2 separate regions of the Homo sapiens genome follow, and region 2 is linked to region 1. Evidence: fine-mapped expression QTL. A gene starts in region 1. The other region holds a variant in brackets. All regions are shown on one strand. Distances are between the middles of the regions. Region 1 holds the start of IKBKE (inhibitor of nuclear factor kappa B kinase subunit epsilon). Region 2 overlaps IKBKE (inhibitor of nuclear factor kappa B kinase subunit epsilon).

The links.
Region 2: its variant is fine-mapped to the expression of IKBKE in monocytes (Fairfax 2014, PIP 0.95).

What each region holds. Positions count from the first base shown.
Region 1 is chr1:206,466,144-206,474,659 of GRCh38, forward strand. IKBKE (inhibitor of nuclear factor kappa B kinase subunit epsilon) reads left to right here and starts at 4,333. Exons shown (of 22, transcript NM_014002.4): 1 at 4,333-4,555; 2 at 5,013-5,102; 3 at 7,053-7,171; 4 at 8,188-8,328. The coding sequence starts at 7,085. RefSeq lists enhancers at 843-1,704, 1,705-2,568, 3,243-3,880, 3,400-3,709, 6,850-6,909 and 1 more.
Region 2 is chr1:206,487,842-206,495,841 of GRCh38, forward strand. It overlaps IKBKE (inhibitor of nuclear factor kappa B kinase subunit epsilon), which reads left to right. Exons shown (of 22, transcript NM_014002.4): 16 at 73-149; 17 at 2,978-3,017; 18 at 3,807-3,908; 19 at 5,182-5,278; 20 at 5,425-5,537; 21 at 6,079-6,150. It overlaps IKBKE-AS1 (IKBKE antisense RNA 1), which reads right to left. Exons shown (of 2, transcript NR_172918.1): 2 at 3,275-5,235. Among named protein-coding and RNA genes, the nearest start is that of IKBKE-AS1, 5.9 kb to the right of the region's middle. The variant T/G (reference allele first, on the strand shown) is at 3,233.

The sequences.
Region 1 (8,516 bases):
GAGTATTACCCTGAAAATGAAACTAATAAGATAGGAGTTGTTCAGGAAATGAAGTATTCTGCTTGATCTGGCAAGGCTGATATGACTGGTAGACATCTAAGTGGAAATATCAGGTAGACCCTTGGATGTATGAATTTGGAGTTCTGGGGGTAGATAATACCTGAAAACGTATTAGGAGCTATTACATTATAGATGTATTCAAACAGAGATTCCCAGGAAGAGCGTGGAGATGGAAAAAAGAGAAGGTCCCGATCATTAGAAATGCAGCAGAGGGGGAGGGCGCAGTGGCTCACACCTATAATCCAGCACTTTGGGAGTCCAAGGCGGTGGATCACCTGAGGTCGAGAATTCGGTACCAGCCTGACCAACATGGAGAAACCCCGCCTCTACTAAAAATACAAAAAAAAAAAAAAGTATCTGGGCGTGGTGGCACATGCATGTAATCCCAGCTACTCAGGAGGTTGAGGCAGGAGAATCGCTTGAACTCGGGAGGTGGAGGTTGCAGTGAGCCAAGATCACGCCATTGCCCCCCAGCCTGGGCAACAAGAGTGAAACTGTCTCAAAAAAAAGAAAGAAAAGAAAAAAAAAAAGAAATGCATCAGAGGAAGGGGGCCAGCAAAGAAGGCAGAATGAGCAAGTGGCAATGAGGTAGATGGCTGGGAAAGCACAGGGTCACAGACAGCAGGAGAGGACAATGCTTCAACAAAGCAGGGAATCTGCTGTTGAATGCCAATGGGGTAAGGTGAGGGTGGCATAGAAAGGGAATCATTGGACAAGAGCATTTTCAGCAGAGGGGGAATGAGTCCAACTGGAGTGGGTTAGGTGGCAAATGGGAAGGGAAGAGGCAGTAACTTGACAACTCGTTGAATGGGGAGCATCGAGAGACAAGGGTAAGATGGGCAGTGCAGAGGTGCATTTGTTGGTGGGGTGGGCAGGATGCAGTAGAACGGGAAGAATGTGCAGGAGAGGAGAGGGTGAGCTGCAGGGTACAAGCGGGAGGGTTGGCCATGGCCACTAGAAGAGGCTCAAGAAGAGGCACTTCCTGCTGTCGCGTGGGAGGGAAGGCAGGTGAGTACAGACACAGGGCAGGCAGTGGATGTGGGGGAGGAAATGAGGGGGTTCCCTTCTGATTGCTTCTTTTATCTAAGCGAAGTTTAAGGCAAGGTCCTTAGCTGACAGTGTAGGAGGGAACAGTGCAGAGGAGGTTTGAAGAGTGAAGACAATGAGAGAAACACTTGCTTTTCCTCGAAGAGAGACGACGCTGGCACCGGCGCCGATTTCCTTCAGTGGCCTGGATGCTGCCTCACAGCTTGTCCCACTGCTTGGGGCCATAGCAGCAAGATTGGCTGCAGTGTTTGTCCCTCCTTCTGCACCCAAAGCTCCTAGCCAGAGCTGACCCCTGAAGGTGACAAAGAGCTGGGCTCTGAGACCTCGTCCCTCAGCCCTTTGCCCTTGTGACTGAGCACAGCAAAAACGTATGGCCTGGCAATGCCCCCCAGCCTCTTCCATATGCACCCCAACCAGCACCCGAGTCCTTTCCCCTCCCCTTTAAGGCACTGGGCCGGCGAGTCAGTTGTGAAAAACTGGCTCAGGCCCCTTAGAGGTGGAAAAAGAAATTAATATCTTTTCAGAGCAGACCAGGTGCCAGGAGCTTCATCTCATTTTACTTTCAAACCAGCCCTATGAGAAACGTCGAGTGACGTGCTAGGGTCATCCACAGTAGGTGGTAAAATCTGAACTCAAACCTCCATGGCAATGGAGCTAGCCCCTGCCCTTCTTACTATACTTTCAGCCTCTTTGTAGAAGTCACATGAGATTTTCTTTCTGACAGCTGCTGTCAAGGGCCGCCCTCTTCCACCTCTGGTCCTTGCACTACCCTTGGATTGCCACTTCTATTTCTAGGACTCCTCAGAGCCACTTGGGAACACGTGGTGGGGACTCTTACAGACTTCCTCTTCCCTTCTGGAGCCCGCCAGCCCCCTGCACCTTCTCGGATGCAACCGGCTGTGCTGCCCGGCTGGGGCACAGGCAAGACATTGCTTCACTGTGTCCACACAGAGGATGTGACCTCACAGAGGATGCGCAAGGAAACTTGATCTGTCACGGCACATGGCTCCAGGCCACCTCTACCTCTCTCCCTTTTCACAGCCTCAGTCCGGCTCTTCTCATGCTTCTGTGCCTCTGCACATGTGCCCACAGCCTGGAATTCCATTCCCCCAGCCCCCTCTCCTCTGCCCAACTCCCCTTTTCCTAAAGTCTGGCCAAGCAACCCTTCTGGAAAGCCCTTCTTGATCACCTTCCTCCCCGCTGCGCGTCTGCCACTCATAGCATCTGCCATGCCATCCTGGACCTCCAGGCTCCTGATGGGATGCCCACCTTTACATCCTGAGCACACAGTGCCTGCCTCATAGCAGGTGCTAGACACATGGTAGTTTCCTTTGAATGTGCTAAATATGCTGGGAAAGAGATTGACGGAGAGAGGAAAGTAAGAGTGCTGGTGAGGACCCAGCAGGTTCATCAGGGAAAAAAGTGGGTAAACATTACGGATTGTCTAAGTTATGTAGCAAACCTCGGTGCCCTAAAGCAACAAAGGCTGATTTCTCACCAAAGCCAATGTCCCTTGTGGACCAGCAGGGGAACTCTGCTCAGGACAGTCACTCAAGGACCCAGACTAACAGAATCACACTGCCAGAAAGCAGAGTTCTGGGAGGGTCTTGCATCAGGAAATAAATGCTTTGGTGGGGAACTCACATGCTCCCCCTATCACAAAGTAACTAGGATGTGCAGTTCTCCCATGTGCCAGGCAGGCAGAAACCTGGGAAGACTAGGCTGGGTGCAGTGGCTCACGCCTGTAATCCCGGCACTTTGGGAGACTGAGGCAGGTGGATCAGGAGGTTGGGAGATCTAGACCAACCTGCTCAATCCACCTCACCAACCACACAGTGAAACCCCATCTCTACTAAAAATACAAAAAATTAGCCACTGGCTCACGCCTGTAATCCCGGCACTTTGGGAGGCTGAGGCAGGTGGATCAGGAGGTTGGGAGATCAAGTCCAACCTGTTCAATCCACCTCACCAACCACACAGTGAAACCCCATCTCTACTAAAAATACAAAAAGTTAGCCGGGCATGGTGGTGCATGCCTGTAGTCCCAGATACTTGGGAGGCTGAGGCAGAAGAATCACTTGAACCCAGGAGGTGGAGGTTGCAGTGAGCTAACATCATGCCACTGCACTCCAGCCTGGGTGACAGAGTGAGACTCCATCTCAAAAAAAAAAAGCAAGCTGGGAAGACTGGGTGGAACATGAGGATCTCAGGCACTCAGGCACATTCCTCCTGGTCCTGATGTGAGAAGTTGCAGCAACTCCTCCAGCTGGAGGTGTTATGGGGAGTTCTCTTTATCTGAGCACTAGGCAGTTCTCAGCTCTGCTCCTGTTCTAGTGTCACTGTGGGAGGGGTGGGGCTGGCGGAGGAAACCACCAGGTGTGGCCATGGGAAAGTCCCTCCAACATTCTATAGAAACATGGAATTTCCTGGTTTTAACCATTTCATATCCAACTGCCATCTCTGAGCTGACCAGAGCAGGACAGACCCCTCCAGCCTCCTAGGACATTTGATGTGGGGCATCGAGTCCTGGCTGGGAAGTTGGCACCTGGGTGCCAGCCCCAGCAGTCTCTGAAGAGCATGGGTAAATTACTGAAGTGTGTGGGCCTCCATGCCTTCAATGCCTTTCTGTAAAATGCTTTCCAAGCTCCCAAACAATTCCAAATATATCCATGTCATCCAATCAACCCACAGAGTAGCTGTTACTCTGCGGGTGAGTGAGCTGGCTGGGAGGGGCTGCATGCTGTGTGCTCAGGTCACACTGGAAGGCATCAGCTGGGTCCCCGCGCTTGCTCTCGGACCTCTGCAGGCCTCCTGGGAAGGTGACTCAGATCCAACTTCTAGGACTGGATCGGCATAGCTCCCACACTTCCTTGGGGTTCCTGGGTGTGGGAGCATGGACTTCCCAGGCAGCTTTCCACTTAGTTAACTTGCCCAACCTGCTCTGTTGACTCTGGGAAGAGCCCTGAACTTCCCTGCTCCAGTGAACTGTGGGAGATGCCAAAACAGCACCCAGCTGCCCATCAAGATTACCAGAAGGGCCCCAGTTCCTGGCTTCTCTGTGGCTCACACTCTGGTCCTATTGCCTACCCTTGGGAACTCAGAGCATCCTCTTTCTCTTTTCTGCTGAGCTGGTGGCTGCACCGAGTTGCCTCTGTCTCTTTAAGAGAGAAAGAGAGAGCGAGAGACGGAAATCAGGAAGTGCGAGAGAGCTGAGAGCCAGGACTCAGTGCTGAGCTTGGTGTCCCACCGCCACAAGGAGGCAGGGAAGAAACCCACTAGTCCCAGCTCCTGGGGTGGCACAGACATTGCAACTGGCCCTGCCTGTGGGTCCTAGGGGCCCTTGGCTACCAGGAGGCTAAGAACACTGCTCATGAATGACAGTGAGCCCTGAAAGCTCTGGGGGTGTCACCCAGTCCCACAAGCCTGCATCCCCTGCAGTGGAGATGGGGTGAGTGTGCAGCGTGCGGAGGGGGGTGGGGGTGGAATGAGGGGCCAGACAAGGGGCAGCTGCAGGGCAGCTCAGCCGGGTGCAGGGGTGTGGGCTTGTTGGCAGCGGTGCTCTCACATAGAGCGTTGTGTGTGGCATGGAGGTGAGCCACCACGGGCCAACCACAAGCCCTCCCTGGGCTCTGCTTACCAACACCCAAAGCCAGCGATCAGCACCCAGCGCCTGCCCTCACCTTTCCCGGGGTCTTTCTCCCTGGCCGGAGTCTCAGGAGTAGGAGACGCTGGGAAAGGCTCCCTGAACAGTTTGGGAATAGAGCTGGAAACCCCCAGCCCAGCCCTGTGGGGGAAGGTGACAAACAGGAAAGGGTTAAAGGGCTAGGGCCGGCGGCCTTTGATGGAGGCTGAGAAGCAACTGCACTGAGGGGCGCCTCTCATCCGCCCTCCTCTTTCCGGTGTAGCTCAGCTCCTGGACGTGCCACAGACAGAAAGCATAACATACACTCGCCAGGAAGAGCCTTTGCCTGACTCAGGGCAGCTCAGAGTGTGGGGTAAGTGCACTTGGCCACAGCAGAGCCCTGAGGAGGGAGGGGAGGGGAGAGGTGGGTGGGTGGTGTCTCACATGCTTCACTGTCCACTGCTCATTCATCCAACCACTGGCTGAGGGCCACTGAGCCCTTCTTTGCACCAGGTGCTTGGGGTGGTGGGGGGAGGATCTGCAGAGCGTGCAGAGTTAAGCCAGATGTGCCACAACCAGAGCTCCCGGGCACAGAATCCAGGGGCACACCGCTTGTCTGGGGGTCTGCGCTTTGCACCTCACTGCCTATTATCCCAGAGTCCTGAGCTGTTCCTTGCCCCAGTATCAGAGCCCTTGGCCTTGATTTCAGCCTGCTGTGCTCCAACCCCAGCCCCAGCCCCCAGACCTGCTGGCTGCCTCCAGCCTCAGCGGGGAAAACCAGACCCACTCATTCATGCTGAGCTACTGTGTTGTCTTCAGGAAGCCTCTCAGTACCTCAGTTGCTTCTGTGTAATGTCCGCTCCTACCTGATCTGAAACTAGGAGTTGACCACCGATCTCTTCAAGGGGCCTCTGGCTCAATGAAATGACATTATCAAGGATTTGCATTTTTAAAAAAGATTACACAGAGAAAAAGTTCAGAGCGAAGGAACATAGGATTCCAGGCATGGCAACCCTCAGTTTGAGAACCTGTAAGATGTTAGAACACGAAGATGCCTTTTCTAGTCTAGCGTTATTTAAAAGTATTTAAGTGGCCAGGCATGGTGGCTCACACCTGTAATCCCAGCAATTTTTTGGGGAAGCCCATGTGGCCGGATTGCCTGAGCTCAGGAGTTCAAGACCAGCCTGGGCAACATGGCAAAAACCCATCTCTACTAAAAATACAAAAGACAGCCAGGTGTGGTGGTGCACACCTATGGTCCTAAGCTCCTCAGGAGGCTGAGTTGGGAGGATTGCTTGAGCCCAGGGGGTGGAGGTTGCAGTGAGTCATGATTGTACCACTGCACCCCAGCCTGGATGACAGAGTGAGACCTTACGTCAAAATAAAAAAAAGAAAAAGGAAAAAGAAAGTATTTAAAGGATGGTGGCCCTTCTAATGCTTCTGTCCCCAGGTATCCCAAAAAGGCCAGCACTGGCCTTATTTTTCAAAGAGAAATTGAGTTTAACTTCTGAGGATACACTTTCTGGTACTAATTGCTTTAGGAGAACTAGGCTTTGGGGAAAAGATGAGGACAAAGATGGGAAACAGAGTTGTAGGGGGTTTCAGATTCTCCCAATGGCTGAATGATGAATTTTGCCTCCCCTATACCCTGCTCTCACACACACACCCACACCCTTCTCCCCAACGCCCTACACACATACACACACACACACTCTCACACACACACACACACACACACACTCTGAAGCAGCCCCATCTCTCTTGGAGCAGTACTGGCCCGGCTGTCAGCTCACAGCAGCAGGAAGTGGTGGGCCTGGCAGGCAGGCCAGCGGGGGCTGGGGGAGTGGCTCTGGACTCATGTTGCAATCCTGGAGATTTGTGGTGGTGTGGGAGATGCTCCCTGACCCTGGGCCCTTCCTCCTATACTGTTTCTGTTTCCTGGGACAATCTCAAGCCTGGATGCCAAAACCCCAGAATCTTCAGTGCTGGGGAGAGGTGGTAGAGACAAGAGGTTTGTCTCTGCAGAATGACCTGCCTCAGGAGGGGCTTCAAGGGAACGTGGGGAGCCAGGACAGGCAGCAGGTGGAACAGGTGCCGGCTGTGGGCTGAGGGCTCAGTGGGGGCCCTCTTGTTGTGCTGTGCGTCCTTTTGGGGAAGTTACTTAACCTTTCTGTGCTTCACACTTCCCCCGCTCCCTTGCTTGTGGAATGGCCACATGGAGCCCTTCTTAGGGTAGCCTTGGGGCACAGTTACAGGTCAGGCCACCAGCGGCCACCCTGTGCCAGGAATGGAATCCTGGGCCCCCAGCATGCTCTTTCTCTAGGCAGAAGGTGACCAGCCAGCTCAGGGCAGGAGATGCAGAGCACAGCCAATTACCTGTGGCACACAGATGACCTGCTGGGGCAGGGGGCCACTGCCAGTGTGTACAAGGCCCGCAACAAGGTAGGAAGCAACCCTGGCCAGGCCCTGTCCAGCCCAGCCTTGGCCCCCTCATGCCTCAGAAGCTGGCCCAGTCAGCCCCCAGTGGGCATTGAGGGTGGTGGGACAGGGACCTCTGGATGTTGTGTAGCACACTCATACTGTGGGTTTGAGCAGAGGCATAGGGAGCTGAAAACGGCTCCTTGAGAGGATGCCTCTGTCGGGCACGAGTTGGAGCAAGAGAACTGTGAAGTAACAAGGCAAACATCCGAGGAAGGTAACAGCAAATGGAATCTAGGAATAGCAGAGTGGGGAATTAGGCCTTGTTTGGATTTATCCTGCGAGAATGTATGAGATGATATCCACTCTGTCTTATTCAAGAGTGGTAGCCGGCCGGGCACGGTGGCTTATGCCTGTAATCCCAGCACTTTGGGAGGCCGAGGTGGGCAGATCACGAGGTCAGGAGATCGAGACCATCCTGGTCAAGATGGTGAAACCCTGTCTCTACTAAAAATACAAAAATTAGCTGGGCATGGTGGCGTGCACCTGTAATCCCAGCTACTCAGGAGGCTGAGGCAGAGAATCGCTTGAACCTGGGAGGCAGAGGTTGCAGTGAGCTGAGATCTTGACACTGCACTCCAGCCTGGGTGACAGAGCGAGGCTCCGTCTCAAAAAAAAAAAAAAAAAAAAAAAAGAATTGGAGCCATACAGACCAGGTTCCAATCCCTTCCCTGCTGCTAACCCCAGGGAGTGTTAGCTGCCCTGTGATGATTGTCAATAGCAATTGTAATAATGACAACAAGCCATCCCCTGCAGAAGATCAGAGTGTCAGGATCTTGTCACCTCCCAGTGCTGGACTCTCTACCCCTTGAGAGGGAAAGGCGGTGCGGATGGGAGCCCCCATCCAACCAGGCTAATCTCTGGGGTTGGGCTGGCCGGAGAGGCTGAATGGAGGCCCAGGAGAGGGTGGCTGCTCCCCTGTGGGAGTGGGACATGTGCTAATCCCATGCTGTCTCCCACTGCTCCCTCCCCAATGGCAGAAATCCGGAGAGCTGGTTGCTGTGAAGGTCTTCAACACTACCAGCTACCTGCGGCCCCGCGAGGTGCAGGTGAGGGAGTTTGAGGTCCTGCGGAAGCTGAACCACCAGAACATTGTCAAGCTCTTTGCGGTGGAGGAGACGGTAGGTCCGGTGCTTGGTCAGAGAATGGTCTTGTCCTTGACCCTTATGGTCTGGGGAGAATCAGGCCACATGATAACAGAGATTTGGTCCCATGCTCATCAGCAGGTCAGAGACAGCAGGCAAATTGCAGAAGGGAGCAAAGGGGGCAAGGGGGTGGGGGCGGTGCACTGGAAAGGAACGATGGACAG
Region 2 (8,000 bases), 21 kb after region 1:
CTTCCCCTCCCTCCCTCTTTCCTCTGTGCTATTAGATTCTTCCAACACCTGGTCCCTGTCTCCTGCCCACAGCATCCAGCAGATTCAGTGCTGTTTGGACAAGATGAACTTCATCTACAAACAGTTCAAGAAGTCTAGGATGAGGCCAGGTGAGCCCGGGGAGGGCAGATGCCCCTTCTCTCTCCTCTGTCTCCCTTCTTTCGCCTTTCTTCCTTTTCACTGGTGCTACCAGTGGCCACTAACCTCCAGCTAAGTGGCCGCTAACCTCCAGCTGGTGGTTCTTGGAGGCCCACTAAGCGGATGGTTCTGTGCAGCTGCTCTAGGGGCAAGGCCCCTGTCTGCAAGCTGCCTGCAGGCCAGTGGGGGACATGAAACCTTTACATGCCTGCCTGTTGCCACATGAGAGACTTGGATCACATGGTTGGGGGATCCAGTGGGCCGGGACCTGGGTGCTGTAGGAGAGGTGGTCCTGGAAAGAGATCTCGCACCTTGGCAGGGCACTTTAAAGTATAGAATGTCACTATCCGTTGTGTCCTTGGGACACTGAGACAGTCAGGTTTTCCAGAAAAGGGGGGGTCAGGAGAAGTCCCATTTTGAGTCACTGGGTCAGGCATTTTGGCTGCTTGATCCATTAATCCTCACAAGGATGCTGTGGCAGGGGCAGCCCATTTACAGGCTCGGGGGTGGGAAGCTGCTTGTCCAAAGTGACTGCCATTGTGGGGTAGTGCAAGGGTGGGACCCAGGGAGGGCTGGTGAGGGGGTTGGAGGGAGCCTGCGGAGGCTCCAGTTGACTCCTCAGGTTGGGGAACTAACACACCAGGAACCAAACCTCCCCCTCCTCTCCCAGGCCCCAAGCATTTCCTAATCTGTAGGCTGAAGGTCTTGGGCTTTATTGCCAAATTCTCTTCTCTCCTTGGGATTATCTAAAAACCACTGTCCAATAGAAATATAATGCCAGACACGTATGTAATTCTAAGTCTTCTAGTAGCCAATTTTTAAAAAGTAGAAAGAAACAAGTGAAATTAATTTTAATGTGTTATTCAACCCAATATATCCAGTGTCATTTTAGCGTGTAATCAATATAAACAAAATCACTAAGGAAATACCTTATATTCTTTTTGTGTTATCTTCAAAATCCCACGTGTATATATACACATAAATATATAACTTATTTCCTTAGCAATTCTGTTTATATTGATTACATGCTAATATATATATTTGAGACAGGGCCTTTGTCACCCAGGCAGGAGTACAATGGCATGATCACTGCTCACTGTCGCCTCAACCTCCTGGGCTCAAGCCATCCTCCCATCTCAGGCTCCTGACTAGCTGGGACTACAGGATGCTTTCCCATCACTTCATTGTTTTATATTTCACATATATATATATAATTCATATATATATTATTCACATATATATATTATTCATATATATATTATTCACATATATATAACATTTATAACACATCTCTATTGGGAAACTAAATTTTATATATGTGTGTATATGTGTGTGTGTGTGTGTGTGTGTGTATATATATATATATATATATATATATATATACACACACACACATACATGGAGCTGTGTGCAGTGGCTCATGTCTGTAATCTCAGCACTTTGGAAAACTGAAGCGGGAGGATCACTTGGGCCCAGGAGTTCAAGACCAGCCTGGGCAACATAGCAAGACCCCGTCTCTACAAAAAATAAACAAAACTAGCTGGACGTGGGCATGCGCCTGTAGTCCTAACTACTTGGGAGGCTGAGGTGGGAGGATCACCTGAGCCTGGGAGCTGGGAGTTCGAGACTGCAGTGAGCTAAGATCACACCACTGCAGCACTCCAGCCAGGGCAAGAGCGAGACCCTGTCTCAAACAACAACAATAACAAAACCTCTAGGCATCATTACCCTCCCCATTTTATAGATGAGAAAACCAAGACACAGAAAGGTTAAGTAGCCCAAGTAATCTAGGTCCAGCTGCTTTTAACTATCCCATTTTACAGCCTCAAAGGAGTTTTACTTCTATTGGTCTTTAAGAGTCCTTTAATAAAATTAAAAATGAACCCCTAACTGTTAAAACCCAGCGTGTTGAAAGATACCATTTTTTAAAATGCCCGGTGGTCTTCAGGCTCTCTCGCATGAGCCTCACGGGACTCCCAAGTGGCACCTGTGATGGATAAGGAGACAGGCTCAGCGAAGTGAAATCACTCGCCTAGTGCCGCCTGCCAACAGGAGGAAGGGCTGAGGTTTGTCCCAGGTCTCTCGGACTGCACACATGCTCTTAGCTGGCCGAGTGCAGGGCCCAGGAGGGGGACTCTGCTATGAGAGGAGTGGGATGGGGAGGCCCTCGAAGTGAACCGCCATCATCATTTCATCTTGGGGCTGCCGCCACCCTGGAGGCCCATTCCTGCGAAGACCAGGAGGGGGCAGCATCTCCCTAGTGCATGAGCCTTAGGGCCCTTCAGGAGGCAGCCAAGGCCATGAAAGCTTCAGCCTTTCTGGCAAAAGTGGCTGGGCAGAGCGGGGAGGTAGAAGGTGGTGGCCTGATTTCTCCAGCTCGTTGCAGGTAGCGCCCATGAACATTCAGGGATGGGACCACCCAGCTGCAGGCATCAGTCACTCTGGGAGGGTGCTGGATAAGGGGCTATGGTTGACCGAGCCTCCTTCTAAGCCCACTTCATCCACCAACTCCCACCTGAAGCATCCCCCACGTCCCCACCCCGGCCCTGCACTGCAGGCTGCCTTCCCCTGGGGCCCTCACACAATTTCCCCATGGCTTCTTGAGGCCCTGGCTTTGTCCTAATCAGCTATTCCGGTGCTAGCTTCACTCCTCTGCCCCTCCTGCTCCGCTGGGCGGTGAGTTCCCGTGAAGCAGCACAGGCTGGGCCGTCTTCATCTTTTAACTGTCTCTCGACCTTTGCTGCACACTGTTTCGTTGACTGATTGAATAGGTGACATCTGTTCTGTCTGTTTCCTCCAGGGCTTGGCTACAACGAGGAGCAGATTCACAAGCTGGATAAGTGAGTGGCCTGTCCTCCGGCAGGTGGGTGGGCAGGAGGGTGGGTGTCCTCAGGGCAGAGCGATTCTCAACGCCAGAGGAGAGGCAGTGAAGGGCCCTGTCCCGGACTGCAGCTGAGCAGAGTTGGGGATAACAGGTTATCTGGGGCCAGGGGAGGGAGTATGCATAGCTTAGTTGGAGGGAGACTTCTCAGATGCAATCTTGAAGTAACTGGAT[T/G]TACTTCTGGTATGGACAAGACTGTTTGCAGGCTTTTTTTTTCTCTAGTTGTCCTCACTGATGCACCACTTACCACTTCCTGCTTCTGCCCTCTGCCTGAACCTTCCCTGCCTCCCCCCGCTCCTCTGTCTCCCATGTTTCCCGGACACACTCACGTCCAGGAGGCCCTCCCTGATTTAATGGTTATCTGGGAACTCACTCCCCCAGTTCTACAAGCACCCCGACCCCTTTTTGTCTCACACACACACGCACTCACACACCTTCTTTCCACGGCTGCCTCACTTTCCCTTCCCTTTCCTGAGGACTAAGCTTGAGCACATGTGTGTTCCCTGAGGACCCCCTGTGTGTCTCCCACGTCTCCCTGTTGATGTGGGCTTTGCTGGCCACTGCAACCTTCACAATCCAAGTGTGTGACCGTCCTTCCTCCTTTCCCAGAGACATAGCCCTGCTGTGGACGCAGGGCTTGGGCACTTACGACAAGGTGGTGACGGAGACTGACGGAGACTGAGGGATGGTGGGCTTGTGCATAGTGGTTCTGGCAGCTCATCTGCACCTTGGTTCTCTGTCGTTCTAGGGTGAATTTCAGTCATTTAGCCAAAAGACTCCTGCAGGTGTTCCAGGAGGAGTGCGTGCAGAAGTATCAAGCGTCCTTAGTCACACACGGCAAGAGGATGAGGTAACAGCCCCTCCTGAGCTCCTGGAGCCCAGGGCCTGGCCTGGCCCTTCTAGGCTTCAGAGGACCCAGGGCTTTGTGGAGCCCTGAGGCAGAGGGAGGAGTGAGTGAAGGGGTGTGAGCAGAGGAGTGGTTTTCTGTCCCTGGGTGGACCAGGCAGTTGGCTGGGAGATTTCTGTAGCTCAGCTTATTTACTCCTACAACACCTGCCCTATACAGTAGATATCATCACCCTATTTCCTAGGTGAGGAAACTGAGGCTCTGAGAACAGGTCTCCTCTGCACATCACATGGCTAGTAAGTGGCAGACCCAAGACTCGTATGTGGCTCTGCCTGCCTCTACAATCTAGATTCTTCAGGGCTTTTGAGGGGTAAAATCAAATCAAATCTGGATTCTTTCTACCGTTCCACCTGGTTATATTGAGAAGTCTCCTTTAGGAGAACACTAGGTGCCCCTGGGATAAGGACAGTGGCAGTGGCCCTTAAGTAGAACCTTCTGTCACACTGTCCCCTTCAGGAGTTTTGGGTTCCGCCTTCTCAGATCAGGCCCACTCTCCATCCCCTGCCTGTGTGAACACTGGCCCCTCCTGAGAAGAGAGGACAATTTCCCACGTGCTACCACATTCTGAGGCCTGTAGGACCTCACCTTGTTATGGGGCTGAGACCTTGGCACTCACCCGTCCTCATATCAGAATACCAATGCCTGCTTCTTCTACTCCAACCCACCACACATTCTGGTGTAATTGCTCTGGAGCAGGGCTTGGATGTCAGTGTAGTACAGCTTCTCCAGGTGATTCTAATGTGTGGCGAGGGCTGACCTCCAACCCCTGATTTAACAGCTCTGGGCCTTGGGGAAAATGTTCCTGTTCCTTCACTCCACTTAGAGATAGAAGAGAATTCACACTGGAAATGAGAGCGTGGGCAGTTCCCCACACTGAGAGCCCTGGTGTGGGCTATCCTCTGCCTCTCTGCAGCCTGACTGGTGCCACGCTCACCATAGGTGGCATGCGTCACCCAGCCCCAGCCACATGCATGTTGTTGGTGCTCCACACTACGGCTCTGAAGGGGGCCTCCCAGCCTCAGCCAGCTGTGTGCTTCTGCATTATTGCAGTGGGGCGGGCAAGCGTGGAGGGCACAGCTGGCAGGGCAGAGGCAGCGAGGGAGGCAAATACCCGGGACCCACCTGTGTCCATGTGTGGATCCGATGGCAGCTAGGCGAGCCCTGGGGAATGGGCTGAGTCCTGCTCTAATTCTAAGTCTCTGTGTGTTCTCTTGAGGGTGGTGCACGAGACCAGGAACCACCTGCGCCTGGTTGGCTGTTCTGTGGCTGCCTGTAACACAGAAGCCCAGGGGGTCCAGGAGAGTCTCAGCAAGGTGGGCATGGCAGAAGGATTCTAGGTGCTCTGGGGATGCAGGCTGGGGCGCTTGTTACCCATGTCTTCCCCTCCTCCAGCACTCCCCCTACCCAGCCACACATAAGCTGGCTACTAATTGCTGACCAAAGTATGGCTTCCCTGCAGCTCCTGGAAGAGCTATCTCACCAGCTCCTTCAGGACCGAGCAAAGGGGGCTCAGGCCTCGCCGCCTCCCATAGCTCCTTACCCCAGCCCTACACGAAAGGACCTGCTTCTCCAGTAAGTGCTGGGGAGAAAGCGGTTGTGTATCTGTGTGGAAGGGGGTTGCAGGGAGCAGAGTATGCTGAGGTTAGAGCCTGAGGGGTTTGGCGTCATGCCAGGCCTAGGAGGCAAGATTAAAGAGACTAGCTGGGTGCGGTGGCTCACACCTGTAATCCCAGCACTTTGAGAGGCCAAGGTGAGCGGATCAACTTGAGGCCAGAAGTTGGAGACCAACCTGCCAAACATGGTGAAACCCCATCTCTGGTAAAAATACAAAATTTAGCCGGGTGTGGTGGCAGGCACCTGTAATCTCAGCTACTTGGGAGGCTGAGGCATAAGAATTGCTTGAATCCAGGAGGCAGAGGTTGCAGTGAGCCAAGATTATGCCACTGCACTCCAGCCTGGGCAAAGGAGCAAGACTCCGTCTCAAATAAGCAAACAAAAAAGAATAAAGAGGCTTCTTTGGTGGGGCTGCAGAGGAGGGTGGGCCTCCCAGGAAAAGGGTCTGGGCAGGGCAACTTCCAGCCTCAGCCGCCTCTCCTGCCTCTGCCTTGGGCAGCATGCAAGAGCTCTGCGAGGGGATGAAGCTGCTGGCATCTGACCTCCTGGACAACAACCGCATCATCGAACGGTAAGGAGCTTTCACCTTGTGTAGGTCAGGGCCGGGTCTTCAAGCTACCCTTGCCTGGGGGTGGTGAAGAGTCCCCAAGCCTGCCCATGCAGGTTTGATGACACGTGTCCATTTTCGAAGAAGCCCTGTTGAAGCTTAGGCATTTTCCACAAATGAGTTGACATCCTCAGGAGGTGTAGGGTTCACTTACAGCCTTTAAAATGTGAGCCTCCATGCTGTCAGGGAGATGGGGGCCTGGAGGCATGGGGTTTGTGCCTGTGTCCAGCTCTGCACTCCATATGTACTCTGTGCTCAAGCTGCCCCAGATGCCTCCTTGAATCACAGCCATCCTCAGGATAGGTGCTGTTTTCATCCCCATGTGCTACCCCAGGAAGCCACAGCGCAGACACCTTGGATACGATGCCCAAGGCCGGTGTTTCTCTGGCCTTGTGGGGCTCCCGTCCCTCCTGCCAATGCTCATGGGCCAGCCCGGGGCTGCAGGATCATCTCCTGATTTGACTCCCCTCCTTGGGGTGCTGAGGGGTCATGAGAGGTTGGTGTGGGAACGCAACAGGGCTCCGACTCTGAGATTGAGATTTTGCATACCAGTAAAAGTTCTTTCTTTTTTTTTTTTTTTTTTTTTTTTTTTTTGAGACGGAGTCTCACTCTGTCACCCAGGCTGGAGTGCAGTGGTACTGTGTCGGCTCACTGCAACCTCCATCTCCTGGGTTCAAGCAATTCTCCTGCCTCAGCCTCCTGAGTAGCCAGGATTACAGGTGTCCACCACCACACGCAGTTAATTTTTATATTTTTAGTAGAGACAGGGTTTCACCATCTTGGCCAGGCTGGTCTCAAACTCCTGGTCTCAGATGATCTGCCTGCCTTGGCCTCCCAAAGTGCTGGGATTACAGACATGAACCACTGCGCCCGGCTACGTACCAGTATAGTTCTAAAAGAAAACTCGAGAACAACAGAGTTACCAGCTGCTCACATAACCAAGTAAGCACATTTGAAGTAAAAAAAAAAAAAAAAAAAAGCCCTGTCATCTAGTAACCCTACTTTATAAAACACATTTTACCACCAAAGAGAGATAACCTCAGGATAAAGGATGGTCCTTGCTTGCCCTGAAGGCCAGCGGCCCTGTTTATATACATGTACACACGTGCACGCATCTCCCACTCCTGCCTGTCATCCTCGTGTCTGTCATTTTCCTGTCTGAGAACCAATGGCAGGGTAGAGTCAGCAGAGGTTCCTACAGGATTTCAATCCTGACCCTGCTTTTTACCAACTGCGTGACCCTGGGAGGTGTGTTCAGCTTTGAGCTTCAGTTCCCTCCCCTGTGAAACAGGAGTAATAATTTCTACCTCATGGTGTTGACATAGGGATTTAAAAAAATGAGATATGCAAGGTGCTTGCGCATAGGGGGGTGTGGAGGGAAGGGCTCACTAAATGTTACTTCTTCCCCAGAGGCCACTCCAGTCTCACACTAGAATTGGGGCCAGGAGGTAGGGAAACCAGGAGCAGAGCTTGTGGTTTGTCCCCAGAGTTTCAGAGGGTCCTTGGGTAAGGGAGGAATCTCCTCCCTGTCCTGTTCCAGCAAGAGAACTCATCCTCTTAAACACCCACAAAGAGGACATTTGACAGCTTCTTGGAAGGATTTTCCAAAACAGCCCTCTTGGTCAGGAAGTTCTAATTTTAGTGCCAACAAAAATTGCTCTTGCTGTGATATGTCATCTATTTGCAGATAGCTCAAAACTTTATTTTAGTGAATTTTCACTTCCTTATTCAGAGCTGTAGCCAAAGAGCCAAATGAATCCATTTAAACTCCTTTCCCCTCCTAAACCTTGGCTACACACTGGAATCACCAGGGG